Regions from separate parts of the Homo sapiens genome. Here region 2 is linked to region 1. A link means that fine-mapping ties the variant in region 1 to the expression of a gene that starts in the linked region. Tissue or cell type: monocytes after LPS. Region 1 holds a variant in brackets; the other region holds the start of a gene. All regions are shown on one strand. Distances are between the middles of the regions. Region 1 overlaps KATNIP (katanin interacting protein). Region 2 holds the start of KATNIP (katanin interacting protein).

The links.
Region 2: KATNIP starts here. The variant in region 1 is fine-mapped to the expression of KATNIP in monocytes after LPS (Fairfax 2014, PIP 0.95).

What each region holds. Positions count from the first base shown.
Region 1 is chr16:27,772,489-27,780,813 of GRCh38, forward strand. KATNIP (katanin interacting protein) reads left to right here. Exons shown (of 28, transcript NM_015202.5): 23 at 611-721; 24 at 2,457-2,596; 25 at 4,440-4,541; 26 at 5,122-5,282; 27 at 5,393-5,481; 28 at 6,086-7,856. The coding sequence ends at 6,141. Among named protein-coding and RNA genes, the nearest start is that of KATNIP, 230 kb to the left of the region's middle. RefSeq lists an enhancer at 1,987-2,487. The variant A/G (reference allele first, on the strand shown) is at 5,096.
Region 2 is chr16:27,546,294-27,554,559 of GRCh38, forward strand. It overlaps KATNIP (katanin interacting protein), which reads left to right and starts at 3,851. Exons shown (of 28, transcript NM_015202.5): 1 at 3,851-3,884. The coding sequence starts at 3,878. It overlaps GTF3C1 (general transcription factor IIIC subunit 1), which reads right to left and starts at 3,620. Exons shown (of 37, transcript NM_001520.4): 1 at 3,377-3,620. The coding sequence starts at 3,597. RefSeq lists enhancers at 3,517-3,596, 3,607-3,716.

The DNA of each region.
Region 1 (8,325 bases):
GAGTGAGCAGAGCACAGGGCTGAGGAAAGGCTTGATGCCCAGCTCTGCACGTGGGACTTCAGCAGCAATGGTGGTCTCCTTGCCCCGGCCCATGGCCCCTGGCGCTGTGAGGTTTATGTGTCCCCTTCTTAGCCTCCTGTTTACTTGAAAGGGATGGAGGAGGTTGCAGGTACTCTGTTCTTGTCATTTCACAACCAGGGAAACTGGAGCATTTTGTTCAATACCATACAATCAGTTTGTGACACAGATGTTTCCCCATCCTGCCTGCTCCCTGGAGAGCACCCTCTCCTCCCGTCCTGTCTCCTGGGGCCTAGAGGAAGGCTTTGAATTCCTAATACACACACACACGGGCACACGCACACGTGCACACATGCATGCATACACACACATGAACACTCACATGCACACACACACACACATGCACACACATGCAATTTAAGAAAATGTGATGCTACCTATATTTTGATAGGCTCTAGTTGCAATAAGAGAAAAATGTTTTTCTCTCATTCATCAACATAAACCCAAAACAATTCCTCTTATCTTTGCCATTGTTTTACTATATTCTGAAAAAAAAAAATTAAGCCTTCTTTTCCTTAATAAAGTGTCCCAGTCATTTTCCAGTTTCAGCTTCTCACCAGCTGGGGCGACCCCTACTACATCGGCCTCACCGGCCTGGAGCTGTATGACGAGCGAGGAGAAAAAATCCCCTTGTCGGAAAACAGTATCCTTTGTAGGACAGGAGTGGGCTCCACCCAGACTGAAGGGAGCATGGGAGGGTCGGGAACGGGGCAGAAGCCTTGTGTGCAGAGGGAAATGGCCCTCTAGGAACCAGAGCCCAGGGGGCTTTGCTTATAGTCAGATGCTGACCCTTGGGGACGGGCAGCAGAGAGCAGCTCCCAGCCCTGCCTGCTAAGACATCAGGAGCAGGAATTCCACAAACCAGAGTCCTGTGGTCCAGTGAATTGAGAGAGGCTGCCAACTATAGCGCCCCCTTCTCGGAGAACCACAGATACTTTGGAGTTCCAAAGGCTCTGACAAGGTCTGCAGGGAGAAGCCTGTTGCACTGTGTTCAACTCAGTGTGTCCTGAATTTCTTAAGTATGGAACCCTTTGTGCATAGTATGCCCACACCAGAATTTGCAGACTGTTAGCCCAGTGCATTTTAAAATGAGTTGCTAATATTTTTAGAAATCACGAGGTTTCACATGAAAACCCTGATCTCTGGTTTCCCCTGAGAAATTGGCAACACAGGCCCTTGATTATGCATAGTGACAATGGCTGGACCTGGTTATCTGTTGCCATTTCTCCCCAAGCATATCCTTCTGGTCTACCTTAGCCCCCCACTCCTCCCATTGTTATCTACCAGGCCCCGAAACTCACTGCTAATATTTTCTCAGGGCTCACTCTGTGCTACCTCATCTGCCCTCACAACAATCTTGTGAGGTGATTGCTGCTGTTATCCCCATTTTACAGATGAGGAGCCTGAGACACAGAGAGATTGAGTAACTTGCCTAATGTCACACAGCCAGTGAGTGTCCAGACACCAGCTCTTGACCAAGCAGTAGGCTATCCTGCCTCTTTCATGTAACCTGCCTGGCCCCCTCGGATCTTGAATCTGTGATCCCTGGCCCACCACAGTTAGGGAAATACCAGGGCAAGTCGAACCCCAAAGCCTGCCTTGCATCTGTTTGGGGTCCCTGGCTTCCAGTTGGATCCTTTTCTGCCTTCCCCTGGTGCCACCACCCTCCTCAGCTGGGATGAATGATTCTTGATGTTTTAGATCATTATTAGCGACTCCTCGAAGCTATAAAGTTTCATTGATTTTACCAAAGTGCTCACATCTGGTGCACTCTGAGATCCTCACATCCATCCTGGGAGCTGGAGGTTTTTATACCCATTTTACAGATGGGAAAACAGGCCCAGGGTTGACCTGTGACTTGCCCACGCCCTCACAGGTCATAATGGCAGAGGCAGAGCTAGAAGCTGGGTTCTGCAGATCACATTAGCTGGGTCCAGCTGCTCCGAGGTCCTTCCACACTGACCAGGAAGAGAGGCTCGGCATGATACTCACATGCCAGGGTAGAATCCAGCCACCGCCCCATTCCCTTCCAAAAGAAAACCTCCGCAGAGCTTGCCCTCCACCCTCTCAAGCAGCAGCAACATTTTACGTCCCCAGCTCTGGCAGTTCCCTGCAACGTCTCTTTTTCAGCTGGCCTTCTGTGTGGTTTCCTTCTCTCTCTACTTGAAACTGACCACCTCTCCAGACACACCTGCTCCCCTTGGGCCCGGCACTCCCCGTTTCCCCAGGACACGTCCAATTCAGCTGTCACTGCTGCGGCTGCCCAAAGCATCAGCCCTGCCAGCCCCAGAGTCCCCCGAGCCACGCCATCAGCCTGAGGGTGGCTGGCAGCCCCGAGCACACAGATTTGGGTTATGGCAACTTAGACGTCTCCTCAGATATTGCGGCCTTCCCCGACAGCGTGAACTCCCTGGAGGGTGTGGGCGGGGACGTCCGCACCCCAGACAAGCTCATCGACCAAGTGAACGACACCAGTGATGGCCGGCACATGTGGCTGGCTCCCATCCTGCCGGGCCTGGTGGGTTCCCGGCAGCGGCCACCGCAGCTCCTGGCCCTCAGGCGGGCAGGGGGACTTTCTTTCCCTGGTCTCAGTGACACGTCTTTCTTCCAGGTCAAGTTAATCTCAAGCCAAGATGCTTGGGAGCTGTCAGAAAGGTTTAGGTCTTTGCTAACTTGCCTGATGGGGTCAGCTCTTCCAGGCCAGCAGTTCTTTCTCTTTTATAAGTGGACACCTGGGGCGAAAGGGGTCCCATGGGAATCTGAAGCCAGGAACCCCAGCACAACTGCCTGAGGGCTTGGGCGTCCTGGGTCCCTGCAGGCAGCCCTCTCTGGTTCTCTGCTCTGCCTGGCTTTGCAGCCACTGTGCCCTCTTCCTCCCCACCCAGCTCTCCGCACACTCACGGTTTCTGCCCCTTCCTACATCACCAGGTAGATGACCCCAGTACGGCCGCCCTGCCCTCCTTCTGGCCCTAAATTGGCCTGGTCAGCTCTTCCGACCAACTGACTCAGTTTCCCAGATCTCAAATCTTGCACTGGGTCCTGCTTAGCTTTTAGCTCTGAGGCCTCATGGTGAGAAGACGTGGTTGGTTGTGGTGGAGAGGAAGGGGAGAGGGCATGGACGGGGTGGTCAGCCCCCCTGCAGCCTCTCAGCCCAGGGCCAGGTGCCTGGTAGAGATGCACAGCGGGTTCTTGGCAGCCATATGACTAGGGATGTGTCCCTTGTCCATGCCATGGGACTGAGTGGGGGATCGGGGGCACCTTTTTCTCTGAAAACACAGGAAGGTACAGCATCAGCAATTCTATGACGGAAGTTTTCCAAAGGCCACCCTAAAATTAGACCCCCCCTATTGAGCGTCCTCAGCTTCCCCTGCCCCATTGCAGAGGGGGCAACAGAGCTCTGTCCTCCCTGAGACTCAGGCCACCCACTGACGGCCAGCGGGTATTTTCCATTGTCTAGCACTGGAAGGCCTTTTGGGGTGCGGCGACTTCAGCTGTTGCTCTCGCGGCTGGACTCCAACATCTGTATCTGCTTGAGCCTCACAGGCAACTGAGTTTGGAGACCCTCACCCTGACCTTTATTGTTTCCATGGTCCAGCCAGGAGGCTGGCCCTACCCGAGCAGCCGCACTCCCTCTTGGCATATTCTGAGGATGGTCACAGGCTGGGGACCAGGGCCTGGGGCAGGACTGAGCCTGCAGTCTGTGGCCAGTGTGGAATGCTTATTTCTTGATTCTGTCTTGCAAGGGAGGGCCTCCCCTAATATCTGAGAGCTTTGGTTGGGGGTGGGGAGAGGGAGGGCTGTTTGAGGCTGCTCCGTCCCACTTTTCCCACTGGATTCTGCCCCGATCTAGACAGCCCCCTTTTTACTCCCCCAGCGGAGGTTCACAGACACGCCCTGGACATTGTCCAGCAGCACCTTGGCGTTGCTTCTCAGTGATGGTTTGGGGAAAGGACAGACAGGGTCAGATGCTGATCACCATGGCTGGTGCTCAACCCGAGTTGGGGACTGTCCCTTTAGCTCATGGGGCTCTAGACTATTTCTGGGCCTGACCTGAGGGGACGTGGGGGAGGGCCGAGGATGTTCCCAATCCTCCACTGGCATTTAAATGAGGGCTCCGACAGGCCCAAGAACACAGGCCCTCCAAAAGCCAGCTCAGCGGTTTGTTGCAAATGCAGCCACACGTGACCTGACTCAAGATGGGCTTCGAGGAGATGAAAGGGGGCGGAACTCCAGGCTGGCCCACGTGGCAGGCGCTGCCTTGGGCACCACCGCTCACCCCAGCCCACGCCTGGCACCCCCAGCCCAGCCAAGCGCCTCTGTTTCCAAACATGCCTGTTTTAATTAGTGCCGCTCTCTGACAGGTGAACCGGGTTTATGTGATTTTCGATCTGCCTACCACCGTGTCAATGATCAAACTGTGGAATTATGCGAAAACACCCCATCGAGGGGTGAAGGAGTTTGGCGTAAGTACTTATTAGCTGAGTTTTTTGAGATAATTATGCTCGTTGGTAATTAGGCCGCCGGCAATTATCATTTGTCGCAGTTTGATTTACTTCTCTCTGTTGCAACCCTCAACACAAATGCCTGGTCGTCAGATGCAGGCGAATTTCCCACCCAACCATGAATTCAGAACCTGCTGGCAGTGATTTCAGTGTCACCCTGAGCAAATAGAAAGTGGGTTTTCTTTCGTCTTTTCCTCTAGAATCCCACTGGTTTGGGGCGGTGACCCTGGGATGGGGAAAACAGGGACCCTGGATACCAGAGACCCAAGTTTGCCTCCAGCTCTGCCACTTGTGCTAATGGTATTAAAGCCCCTCGGGCCTCAATTTCCTCATCTGCAATGCATGCTGATAGCTCCTGCCTTTCCCAATGGTTGTGAAGATCTGAAATCACAAGGCAGACACAGCACACAGTAGGCGCTTGTTCCTGACAGCCCCGTCTTCCCGAGGAGAAAGCCTTGGCTCAGAGCAGTAACGCGTTCTGCCCAAGGTCAACGTGGGAGGGACGAGGGGGACCC[A/G]TGAGTCCTGCCCCGTGTCCCTGCAGCTCCTGGTGGACGACCTGCTTGTGTACAATGGGATCCTGGCCATGGTGAGCCACCTGGTGGGGGGCATCCTGCCCACATGTGAGCCCACCGTGCCCTACCACACCATCCTCTTCACCGAGGACAGGGACATCCGCCACCAGGAGAAACACACCACCATCAGGTAGGGCCCCAGCCGGCCCCATGGCCTCCCCACCAGCCCTAAGGAGGATGGATGGCTGGGACACACGGCCAGGAGCCTGATCGAATCTTGTGTTTCCTTCCTACCCTCAGTAATCAGGCCGAGGATCAAGATGTCCAGATGATGAATGAAAACCAAATCATTACCAACGCGAAACGGAAGCAGAGCGTTGTTGACCCAGGTCAGTGGCGTTTCTCTGCCCAGAGCATTGTGCCTTGGGAGCTCGGTCTGAATATAGAAGGAGCTGGTGGCCTTGCACCCCCACCCTCACCCCTGCCTGCCCCTAGACCGCTCTCCTCTGCCCAGGAGCCTGCCCAAAGGCCTAGGGAGGGACTGAAGAGGATGGAACCAGGGGAGCAACATGCTTCCATCTTCTTGCAGGCACCTGTAACACAGTGGAGCTTCCTGAATCTAAGTGTCGTGGGCACAGAGTGGGGAAGCAGTCAGGGACAGAGCACCATGTTAAAGGGGTTTGCCCCGGGCCGTGGGAAACCAATAGAGGATGCCCAAGGTGAGGGCTTCCCGGAGGAGGTGATGTTTGAGCTGGATCCTAAAGGATGTGAGGAGTGTGCCAGGCAGCCTGGGCAAAGGCTGAGAGGGGTGTTGTGGCAGAGCCTGCTCCAGGCGGAGGGAAGGGGCCAGCGTGCCAGGCGCCCCGAGAGCAGGGACTTTTCCAAGGGCCTTGAATGGCAACCCAGGCTGCTGGATTTCACTGGGGAGTGTGGGGCACCCCTCCAGGGTTTGAGACTTAGTAACTCTGGTCCCTCTGTTCCCTGTCATGACAGCCTTACGTCCCAAAACCTGCATCAGCGAGAAGGAGACGAGACGACGGCGCTGCTGACTGGTGAAGGAGGGAGAGCTGGTCCTCCCACTATGGTGGGCTCCGTCAGCAGCCCCACTCAGTGCCTGCGTCCCTCACCCTCAGTCCCAGGAGCTGGAAGCGAACCACAGTGTTGAGGGGAGCCCGCTGGGAAGAGGGGACTCGGGAGGACAGCCCTGGATACTACCAGAGTGACAGATGGCTGTGGCTGCAGGGCAAAGAGATCCCCTGCAGTTCTGGGTTGGCCACAGGGAGCCCAGGACACCCGCCTTCATGCCTCTGCTGTGAGACCCAGCAAAGCAGGGCCCATGACCACTAGGGCCTGGGCTGACCCTGACTCAGAACAGGACAATGACGGGGTGGGGAGGCATCCCATCCAGCCTCAGAGGGCCCAGAGAATGGCTGAGCAGGACAGTGGGAGACCAGACCCTACCCCGCAACTCCAGTAAGCAGGGCACTGCCCAGGGAGACTGCCTTCAGAAACCTGAGCTTCAGCGGCCAACACCCCCCATCCCCTGCGCATCCTTGTCTCATTTGGGGACTGGTGGAGCTGGCTGAGAGGTTGGGGTAGTTTCCTGGTTACAGGGGTCCACAAGACCCTCTCTCATCCCGGTATAGGGGCCTCTCTCCTCTCATCGGGCCTGATAAGGGATTGGCCAAGGCTGTGTGCATCCTGCAGAGGGAAGGAAGTCAGCTGGGCCACCCGCCATCCACCTTGGCAAGAGCTGGGCCCACTCTGGCAGGCCAGGGTATCATCTGCGTGCTGCTGCCGGGCCAGGAAGGGTGGGTGGGTGGCCAGCAGGCTGGCAGCTCCAGACCCCAGAGGGCCAGAAGAACTCACCCCAGTGCCCTCTGGATGCAGGTGTTGGGGAACACTGAGGACAATCCCCCATCTCCCCTCACCCTTGAGCAGGCCCTCCCTGCACTCTCTGCCACATGTCCCTCCTGGTCTGATCACGGCTGTGCTCACTGATGTGGCTGCTTTCTGTCTCTGCCCCTGTGCCCTTGGAGGCAGGCAGTGAGGTGCTCCTTTCCCAGGCCCCCACCCCTTCTCCCCCTTCAGCCACTTCCCAGCGAGTTGGAAATGTGCCTTGCACCCCCAGCCGAGTGAAGCCCAGAACGCATCTATATGCATCGATGTAACAAGCTCGGATCAGGGACCTAATTGGTTTCCCAGTAGTGGGTAATTTCTCGTTGCAAATATTAATCCGTTGTTTTTCTGGCGCCCAGCCCGGCCCGCCGCAGTACTGTACTCGAGGTACGTTCCTATGCAACCGAGAGCCCCGGCAAATACTTCATGAGCTTAGCAGCCTGGGCTCGAGCAGCTATGCAAACGCGCTTTTCATTTGGAGCACGGGGCTGATGTGAAGATAAGAATTGTTTCTCCTGGAGAAAGATCCATCATTTCTCCAGCTTCCAAGCCCCCGGCACCTCTGCTCAGCTCCCAGATGTGACGAGCACCTCCCGCCAGGGGGAGTCAGGGGTTGATCAAACCAGCTCTTGTGACCCAAACCAGTGCCGCTGCATTAAAGGGAGGCCCAGCTACTCCTTCCCAGCTGAGATGTGGGTACAGGTCAGATTTGTCAGGGAGATGGCACTAACACGACACAAGCTCACTCCCAGAACCGCAGCTGATGTTTATAATAATCGTATGTACTGTGCAATTTAGGAGGGGAAAAAAAGGCTGTACAAGCTTTAACTCTAAAATAAATTTCTATTTTTTTCCTCTTGCAAAATTAATAAAAGATGTTATTAAGAATATAGTCCGAGTCACCGGATTTGGGGTCAGATGGGGAGTCCATGCTGCCTCCAGGAGCTGAGTGACACAGAGAAGCCCTCACTGAGCTGCAGATGGGGTCATGATCTCGCCCTGACTACTCAATGAGATTGTCCTGCCGTATGAGCAGACAACAGTAGCTCATCCATAGAGAGTGGTGATTACATGCCTGGCTCTAACTTGTTTAATCCACGTAACACAACCCTTTGGGGTGGGCACTATTATTATCCTCACTTTACAGATAAGGGAGCTGAGACACAGAGAGGTTGTGCAGCTTTCCTGGGACACACAGCTTTGGAAGCTATTAGCCAATGCACAAATCCTGAGAGGGCCCCTGGAGAGTTGAGGTGGGGGTGACAACACTTGGGTCTTTGGCCCTGGGGTTTCCCTTCACCATGTGTGGATCCTGGAATGGTGGCCCCCAGACC
Region 2 (8,266 bases), 230 kb before region 1:
TCCAATGTCTTCACTTGTCTATTAAATGCCTCCCATTCCAAATATGATTACCTCTCCCCAGCTCCAATTAAGTCCCTTCTTTCCCCTCTTACTACCGCTTTCTTCCATGTGCCTCTTACAACACCATGGAGACATTTTTCATTTGTGCTTCTTTCATGCAGTTAGCCAAGCTTGTCAAGTTTTTTTTTTTTTGAAAAAAAAAAAAAATACATACATATATATATATATAATTTTTTTTCCCCTCACTATGTTGCCCAGATTGGTCTTGAACTACCGGGCTCAAGTAATCTGCCCACTTCAGCCTTGCAAAGTGCTAGGATTACAGGTGTGAGCCACCTTGCCTGGCTGCTTGTCGAGTTTTATTTTGAAATCTCACTCATATCCTACACTAGTCTAATTGCGGCTAAATCCTATGTACATGTTTCAGCCCTTTCCTTCCTTGCCCCCTCTGTGTTATCTGCACCATTTAACCCTCCATTCCTTTTTTTTAAGACTTGAGTTTTGATCTTGTCACCCAGGCTGGAGTGCAGTGGCGCAATCTCGGCTCACTGCAACCTCTACCTTCTGGGTTCAAGCGATTCTCCTGCCTCAGCCTCCCTAGTAGCTGGGATCACAGGCACCTGCCACCACACCCAGCTAATTTTTGTATTTTTAGTAGAGAGAGGGTTTCACGATGTTGGCCAAATGATCCACCTGCCTCGGCCTCCCAAAGTGCTGGGATTACAGGCATGATTCACCACACCCAGCCCAACCCTCCGTTCTTAAATGATCCTGTCTCCTCCCAAACTTCCAGAACACCACTCTGACCTGACTGTCCTCTACCTCTCCAGCCACACCGCCTCAGTCTTCTTTTGAAAGTCCCTCACCCTCCATCCAGCCTTGAAATGTAGGTGCACTGCAGAGCTATATCTCAAGACCTCCAACCACACTACACTCTCTCTTAGGGCTGATCTTAGCCAGCTGCTTTAATTACCAGCTGCTAGGAATGACTCACAGATGTCTAGCTCAGTCCCTCCCTCTGGCCTGCTTTCACTCCCACGAAGCCAGATGTTTACTAATTAAGACTCTTCACTTGGACAACTCAAAAGAACCTGAAGCTAAATGTGTCACATGTCTCTTCAGCAAAGTCCCCACCTCCCCCAGACTCAACCCCCACGCTGTTCTTCCGTGTTCCCAGCCTCAGAGATGAGAATCAGGGTTCGCTCAGGTGCCCAAACAGCAGCCTACTATGTCTTGACTGCCTGTGCTCTTCATCCCCACGCCCACCATGGTAAGCCAGACCATGACTAGATTACTAAAAATCTCTCAACTTCACTCTTTGCCCCTAGTCTGACCCTCTCTTCAGTGACTTCTCACTGTCCTTTTGATAAAGGATAAGCTTTTTTTTTGAGATGGATTCTCCCTCTGTCACCCAGGCTGGAGTGCAGTGGCACAATCTCGGCTCACTGCAGCCTCCACCTAGCTGGGATTTCAGGCGTCTACCACCACGCCCAGCTAATTTTTGTATTTTTAGTAGACATGGGGTTTCACCATGTTGGCTGGACTGGTCTTGAACTCCTGACCTCAAGTTATCCGCCCACCTCTGCCTCTCAAAGTGCTGGGATTACAGGCTGATAAACTCTTTAAGTAGGTTAAAAGACTTGATTCCAGTCCAATTTGGCTGGAATCTGAACTCAGACCTTCCTCAAAGTCTGGGTTCTTCCCTTGCTAGTTGACTTTTAGCATGCCACTTGACCCCTCAGGGCCTCGATTTTCTCTTCAGGAAAATGGGGAGAATATTACCCATCTCCTAAGGTTTCTGTAAAAATTAAATAACATGTTGTATTAAGGATCTTAGCACAGTCCTAGCTATTCCTCATTCCCTACCTCCAATTCCACACTTCAGCCACTTACTTCACATTTGCTGTTCTCTGTCCAACAGTCCTCTTTGCCAACTGGCTGCCTAAATCCAACCTTTAAGTTTTGTCTCGAACATTATTTTATTTTATTTTTGAGACAGAGTCTCACTCTGTCACCCAGGCTGGAGTGCAATGGCTGAATCTCAGCTCACTGAAACCTCTGTCTCCCAGGTTCAAGTGATTCTCCTGCCTCAGCCTCCTGAGTAGCTGGGATACAGGCATGCGCCACCACGCCAGGCTAATTTTTGTATTTTTAGTAGAGATAGGGTTTCACCACGTTGGTCAGGCGGGTCTTGAACTGCCGACCTTGTGACCCATCCACCTCAGCCTCCCAAAGTACTGGGATTGCAGGCATGAGCTGCTGCACCCGGCCTGTCTTGGACATTATTACCTCTTGGAACCTCCCCTGACCCTCACAATATGGCTTAAGAGCACAGACGCTGAAAATAGCCTGGGTTCAAATCAATTCTTAGTCACTTATTGCCCCCAGAACCTTAGGTTACATAATCCCTCTCTGTGACTCAGTGTCTTCCTCTGTAAAATGAGGACGATAACAGCACCTACCTCATAGGTGAGGATCAAGTGAATTTAATCTCCTGTTTAACGGAGTTTAATCAAGTGAGGATCAAGTGAGTTTAAGCTCCTAAAGCTTCTAGAATAGATTCTTAGAACAGCAATGTGGCCGGGCGCCGTGGCTCACGCCTGTAATCACAGCACTTTGGGAGGCCGAGAGGTGCGGATTGTCTGAGGTCAGGAGTTCGCGACCAGCCTGGCCAACATGATGACACCCCATACCTACTAAAAATGCAAAAATTAGCCGGGCGTGGTGGAACATGCCTGTAATCCCAGTTACTCAGGAGGCTGAGGCACGAGAATCGCTTGAACCTGGGAGGCGGACGGAGGTTGCAGTGAGCCAAGATCGCGCCACTGCACTCCAGCCTGGGCCACAGAGAGAGACTCTATCTCAAAAAAGAAAAAAAAGAACAGCACCTCACCCATGAAGTCCCTGATAAATGTCAGCTTTTAGCATTATCGCTAATTGTCCTGATACGCAGATCTCGAGTTGCCCTAGGCTATCTGCACCGAATGAATATACCATGAGGGTCTGTTGATCTCAGGAGTCTCCAGTCTGGCTCTAAAGTGTCTTTCCTGCTCTAATCCTATCCTCCAATGTAAAGGAAACATTCTTTTAAGCCTGAAGAATATCCCCAATCCTGTTCGCCATTACCCCAAAACACACACAGGGACAAAACGGGACATCACTAGATTCTCCCCCTCCCCCCGCCAACTCCATCGGACTCCAGGGCCCTGCCAGGCCTGAGGGACCCCAGATTAGCCTTACCGCCGTGCCCCAACTCAATCAACAGGCCTCCGGTACTTGCACAGCCCCACTCCATTCCCCCGCCCTGCCCCCAGCTCCATCAGCCCCCGGGCCCTGCGCCCGCCCGCCCGCCCGCCAGGCCAGGCCGCCCGCTGACCGGTCCTGGAGCTGTAGGTCGGGTCGCTCCCGAGGCTCCTCATAGAAGCTGATGCCCGGGTGCGTGGCGAGGGCCCGCCAGAGAAACTCCTGCGTGCAGGGTTCCAAAGGCAGCGGGAAGGGCGGCACTCGCGTCTCCAGCCGGCTCCACAGCGCTGGCAGACACAGGCCATCGAGCCCCTCCAGAGCGACTTCGTCCAACAACGACTCCAGCGCGTCCATTGCTACTTCAGTCGGCGGCGCCCGGGGCGCATGCGCAACGCACCGCCAAGGGCCTTGGTCCATCGCGCCTGCGCACAACGATCCGGGGCCCGGGGAGGTGGGTCAGACCCAGGGTTCGGAGGAGGAGTTCCAGCGCGCCGGCATGACGTCACTCCCCGGGGGCGGGCTCAGTAAGTGGAGCTCCACCGTCATTGGTCCGGGGCCCCGCAGTAACCAGGGGAACTGCAAACAGTGTAGAGGCCGCTTCCGGTTCGAGCTCCCGGAACCGCCGCCTCTAGGGATGGACGGTGAGTGTCTGTGGGCCCCTCCGGGAGGTCGGGCTGTTATTCTCCCATCCCTCCCGACCGCGCTTTGGGCAGAATCCTAGGCCATGAACCCCTGGACCACCACTTCCTGACCCAAGGGGGTCTCCGAAATGAGGGATAGGGAGGCTTAGTGGTCTGGAACGCGGAGGAGAGCCTGGGGGAGTGGTCAGTGCTGTGACCATTCTGCTCGGCTGTGGTCGTGAAGGAAACCGGTACTGGCCGGGAGCTCAGTGAAGGGATGTAGGGTGGGGAAGGAGAAGTAGAGGTCTGAGGAGGGTCTTGTGAATGTTGGGATGTGGAACTGTCGGATTTGGGAGTTGATATGAAAACAAGCTTGATCGTGGGAGTGCAATCGTCAGGTGCTGGGAAAGGGAATTGGTGTGGGGGGTGAAGGGAGTTTAGGAAATACTCCCTTTCTGTGCCTTGGCGTTAATAATAATAGCTCCCTTTAACAAAGTGCTTTCCAGTACCAAGAACTCTGTAAGTACTCTTGGGCAACACCTCGCTAAGCTTCATACCAGCCTTTTGAGTTCAGCGTTGTTCCATTTTACAGATGATGAAACTGAGGCTCAGAGGTGTTAAGGAACTTGCCCAAAGTCAAACAACCAGCATGTAGCAGAGTGAGTGAGAAACCCAGACACCCTGTCTCTGGAGCTGAATTATGGAGCTTGAGATTTGGACCGGTTTTGAGGGTCCCTTTATTCCAGAGGTTGTAAATGCAGATGTCTGCAGAGGAGAGTCTAGTGAGCCGGATTGAGGCTGTAACTGAAAATCAATTCCTCACCTGAAAGGAAAGCTGCTCACCAAGCACCAGCTGATTGTCCTCTTGGGGTACTTCTCAAAAACAGGGTTGGCCAGTCACTCTGAAGGCCAGAGACAGCTTGTGGGCCCCCATTTAGGGATCCCTGATTAGAGTCATGGTATTGACAATTGGAAGCAAATGGAAAATAGGCTATTCTGATATCTCACTTTGCAGATGGGAAGACTAAAGTCTAGAGAGACTGGTAGGGTCTGGGCTAGAGTCCAGATCATTTTTCTAATTACAGCACTGTCCCTCACTTCTCGGGAATTTGTTCCTGGGGAATCCACATTCTTTTTATATTCACTGAATGTAGTGTGGAGAAAATGTTTTTAATTGAACATTCTGTCATATGCTTAAAATATATCTTTTCCCTTTGTACTTTAGAGGTACTATAAAATGTGCTTTACCATTTTGCCTTCTGGAAAGGTCAATGTAATGTTGCTATAGAACATCAGTCCTCAAACCTTTTAAGCCTTGGGACCCCTGTATGCTCTTACCTCAAAGAGCTTTGTTTATTTATATTTATGATATTTACCATATCGAAGATTTAAACTGGGAAAATCTTAAGATGTCCATTAATTAGTTCCTTTAAAAATAATAAAAATTGGGCCGGGCATGGACTCGTGCCTGTAATCCTAGCACTCTGGAAGGCCAAGGCAGGTGGATCACTTGAGGTCAGGAGTTCGAGACCAGCCTGGCCAACATGGTGAAACCTTGTCTCTACTAAAACTTAGCCGGACGTGGTGACACATGTCTGTAATCCCAGCTACTTGGAAGGCTGAGGCAGGAGAATCATTTGAAGCCGAGATCTTGCCACTGCACTCCAGCCTGGGCAACAGGGCGAGACTCTGTCTCAAAAAAACCCAATAATAATAATAATAATTGGCCAGGTGCAGTGGCTCATAATAATCATAATAATAATTGGCCATGTGCAGTGCCTCACACCTGTGATCCCAGCAGTTTGGGAGGCTGAAGTGGGTGGATTGCTTGAGCTCAGGAGTTCAAGACCAGCCTGGGCAACATAGCTAGACCCTGTCTCAAAAAAACTCCAACAACAATAAACCCATTACTTCTGAACATAAATAATATTTTTAATGGAAAACAATTACATTTGCCTCCAAAAAATTAATAGGAAGAGTAGCATTATTTTATGTTTTTTCAAGTTTATTCAATAGAAATAGAAAAAACTACTCTCATTTCTGCTTCAGGATTCAAACTGTTTTTTGTTATGCTGTTTTGGCTGGTGTGTATGAAGAAAATTTGGCCTCATACAAATATATAATTGGAGCAGAGAGAAACATTTTAATTGCCTTTTCAGATAACTGTAGACACTCTCCTTTCATACTATACAAAATTTAGCAAATGCCAGTTTCTTTTTTCTTTTTTTTTTTTTTTTTGAGAAAAAGTCTCACTGTCGCCCAGGCTGGAGTGCAGTGGCACGATCTCAGCTCACTGCAACCTCTGCCTGCTGGGTTCAAGCGATTCTCCTGCCTCAACCTCCCGAGTAGCTGGGATCACAGGTGTGAACCACCATGCCCAGCTAATTTTTTTTATTTTTAGTAGACATGGGGTTTCCCCATGTTGGCCAGCTGGTCGCAAACTCCTGACCTCAGGTGATCAGCCTGCCTCCATTTCCCAAAGTGCTGGGATTACAGACGTGAGCCACCATGCCTGGCCTGCAAGTGGCAGTTTTTTTTTTTTTTTTTTTTTTTTGAGACGGGAGTTTTGCCGTCGTTGCCCAGGCTGGAGTGCAATGGCCTGATCTCGGCTCACCGCAACCTCCGCCTCCCGGGTTCAAGCGATTCTCCTGCCTCAGCCTCCCAAGTAGCTGGGATTACAGGCATGTGCCACCACGCTCAGCTAATTTTGTACTTTTAGTAGAGATGGGGTTTCTCTATGTTGGTCAGGCTGGTCTCAAACTGCCAACCTCAGGTGATCCGCCCGCCTTGGCCTCCCAAAGTGCTGGGATTACAGGCATGAAGAACCATGCCAGGCCACAAGTGGCAGTTTCTTAAATGTTAGTCACAGTGTGTCATCTGAAGCCTTATAGGTGAACTTTTATACTGTGTTACATTAAAATCCATTGGTCTATCTTGCCCTTTCATTGGCTGCTTTACCCATATATGGTTTTATAACATCAGCCATTGGTCGTTTAGAAAATGTTGGTTCAGTGAGTTATGCAAATCTAAACGTTGACCTTTCAGATGCCATTATACGGTATTTAAAAAATCACATTTGTTAATATCACCACCTATTTCATTTTAAAAAGGAGTTTAAGTATTAGGAAACTATCAAACTCAAGGTAATGGAAACAAGTTTTCAACTTGTTTTCACTTGACAGCTTGAATTTTAACATTGGCAGCAAATATTGTCAGCTGTTTCCTTGAAGTGACAGACTCACTTATTTCATATTTGAGAAAATTTCTGCCAAATTCCCAAGACTGAATAACCAAAATTTGTCTATTATTTTATTTACTGCCATGTACTCACATTTAAAACAAACAAACAATTATTTTTATTTAAGAATGTCCTGATGGTTGGGTTCAGTGGCTCACGCCTATAGTCCCACCGCTTTGGGAGGCCAAGACAAGAGGATCTCTTCAGCCCAGAAATTCAAGACCAGCTTCGTCAACATAGTGAGACTCCATCTCTACTAAATAAATAAATAAAATAAATAAATAAATAAATAATAGTCAGGCATGGTAGCATGCACCTGTGGTTCTAGCTGCTAAGGAGACTGAGGTGTGGGGATCACTTGAGCCCAGGAGGTCAAGACCAGCCTGGGCAACTTAGTGAGACCCCATCTCTGTAAAAAGTAAAAAATTAGACAGGTATAGTGGCTCGTGCCTGTAGTCCCAGCCACTCAGGATCAGTTGAGCTTAGGAGGTTGAGGCTACAGTGAGCCATGACTGTGCCACTGCACTCCAGCCTGGGCAAAAAGACCTTGTCTAGAGAGAGAGAGAGCAGGGGGTGGGGTGGGGGGAGAGAGGAGAGAGAAAGGAAGGAAGGAAAGAAGGGAGGGAGAGGAGAGAGAAAGGAAGGAGGAAAGAAGGGAGGGATGGAAGAAGGGAGGGAGGAAGGAAGGAGGGAAGGTTTCTAGTACATTGTGGTAACATTGCCTTGATTCAGACTGCAAGCAGTTTTACCCACCATTGCTTTGTGTCATAAGTACAAATGTCAACACAGCCAGATGGGGTGGCTCACGCCTGTAATCCCAGCACTTTGAGAGGCCAAGGTGGGCGATCACCTGAGGTCGGGAGTTTGAGACTAGCCTGGCCAACATGGTGAAACCCTGTCTCTACTAAAAATACAAAAATTAGCTGGGCATGGTGGCACATAACTGTGGTCCCAGCTACTTGGGGGAGGCTGAGGCAAGAGAATCGCTTGAACCCAGGAGGCAGAGGTTGCAGTGAGCCAAGATCATGCCACTGTATTGCAGCCTGGGCAACAGAGTGAGACTGTCTCAAAAGAAAAAAAATTCAACACAGTGAAATACTCTTCAAATTATGATTAAAATACTTTTGTCTTTGTGGACCCCTCCTTCTCCCAGGATCTGCACCTT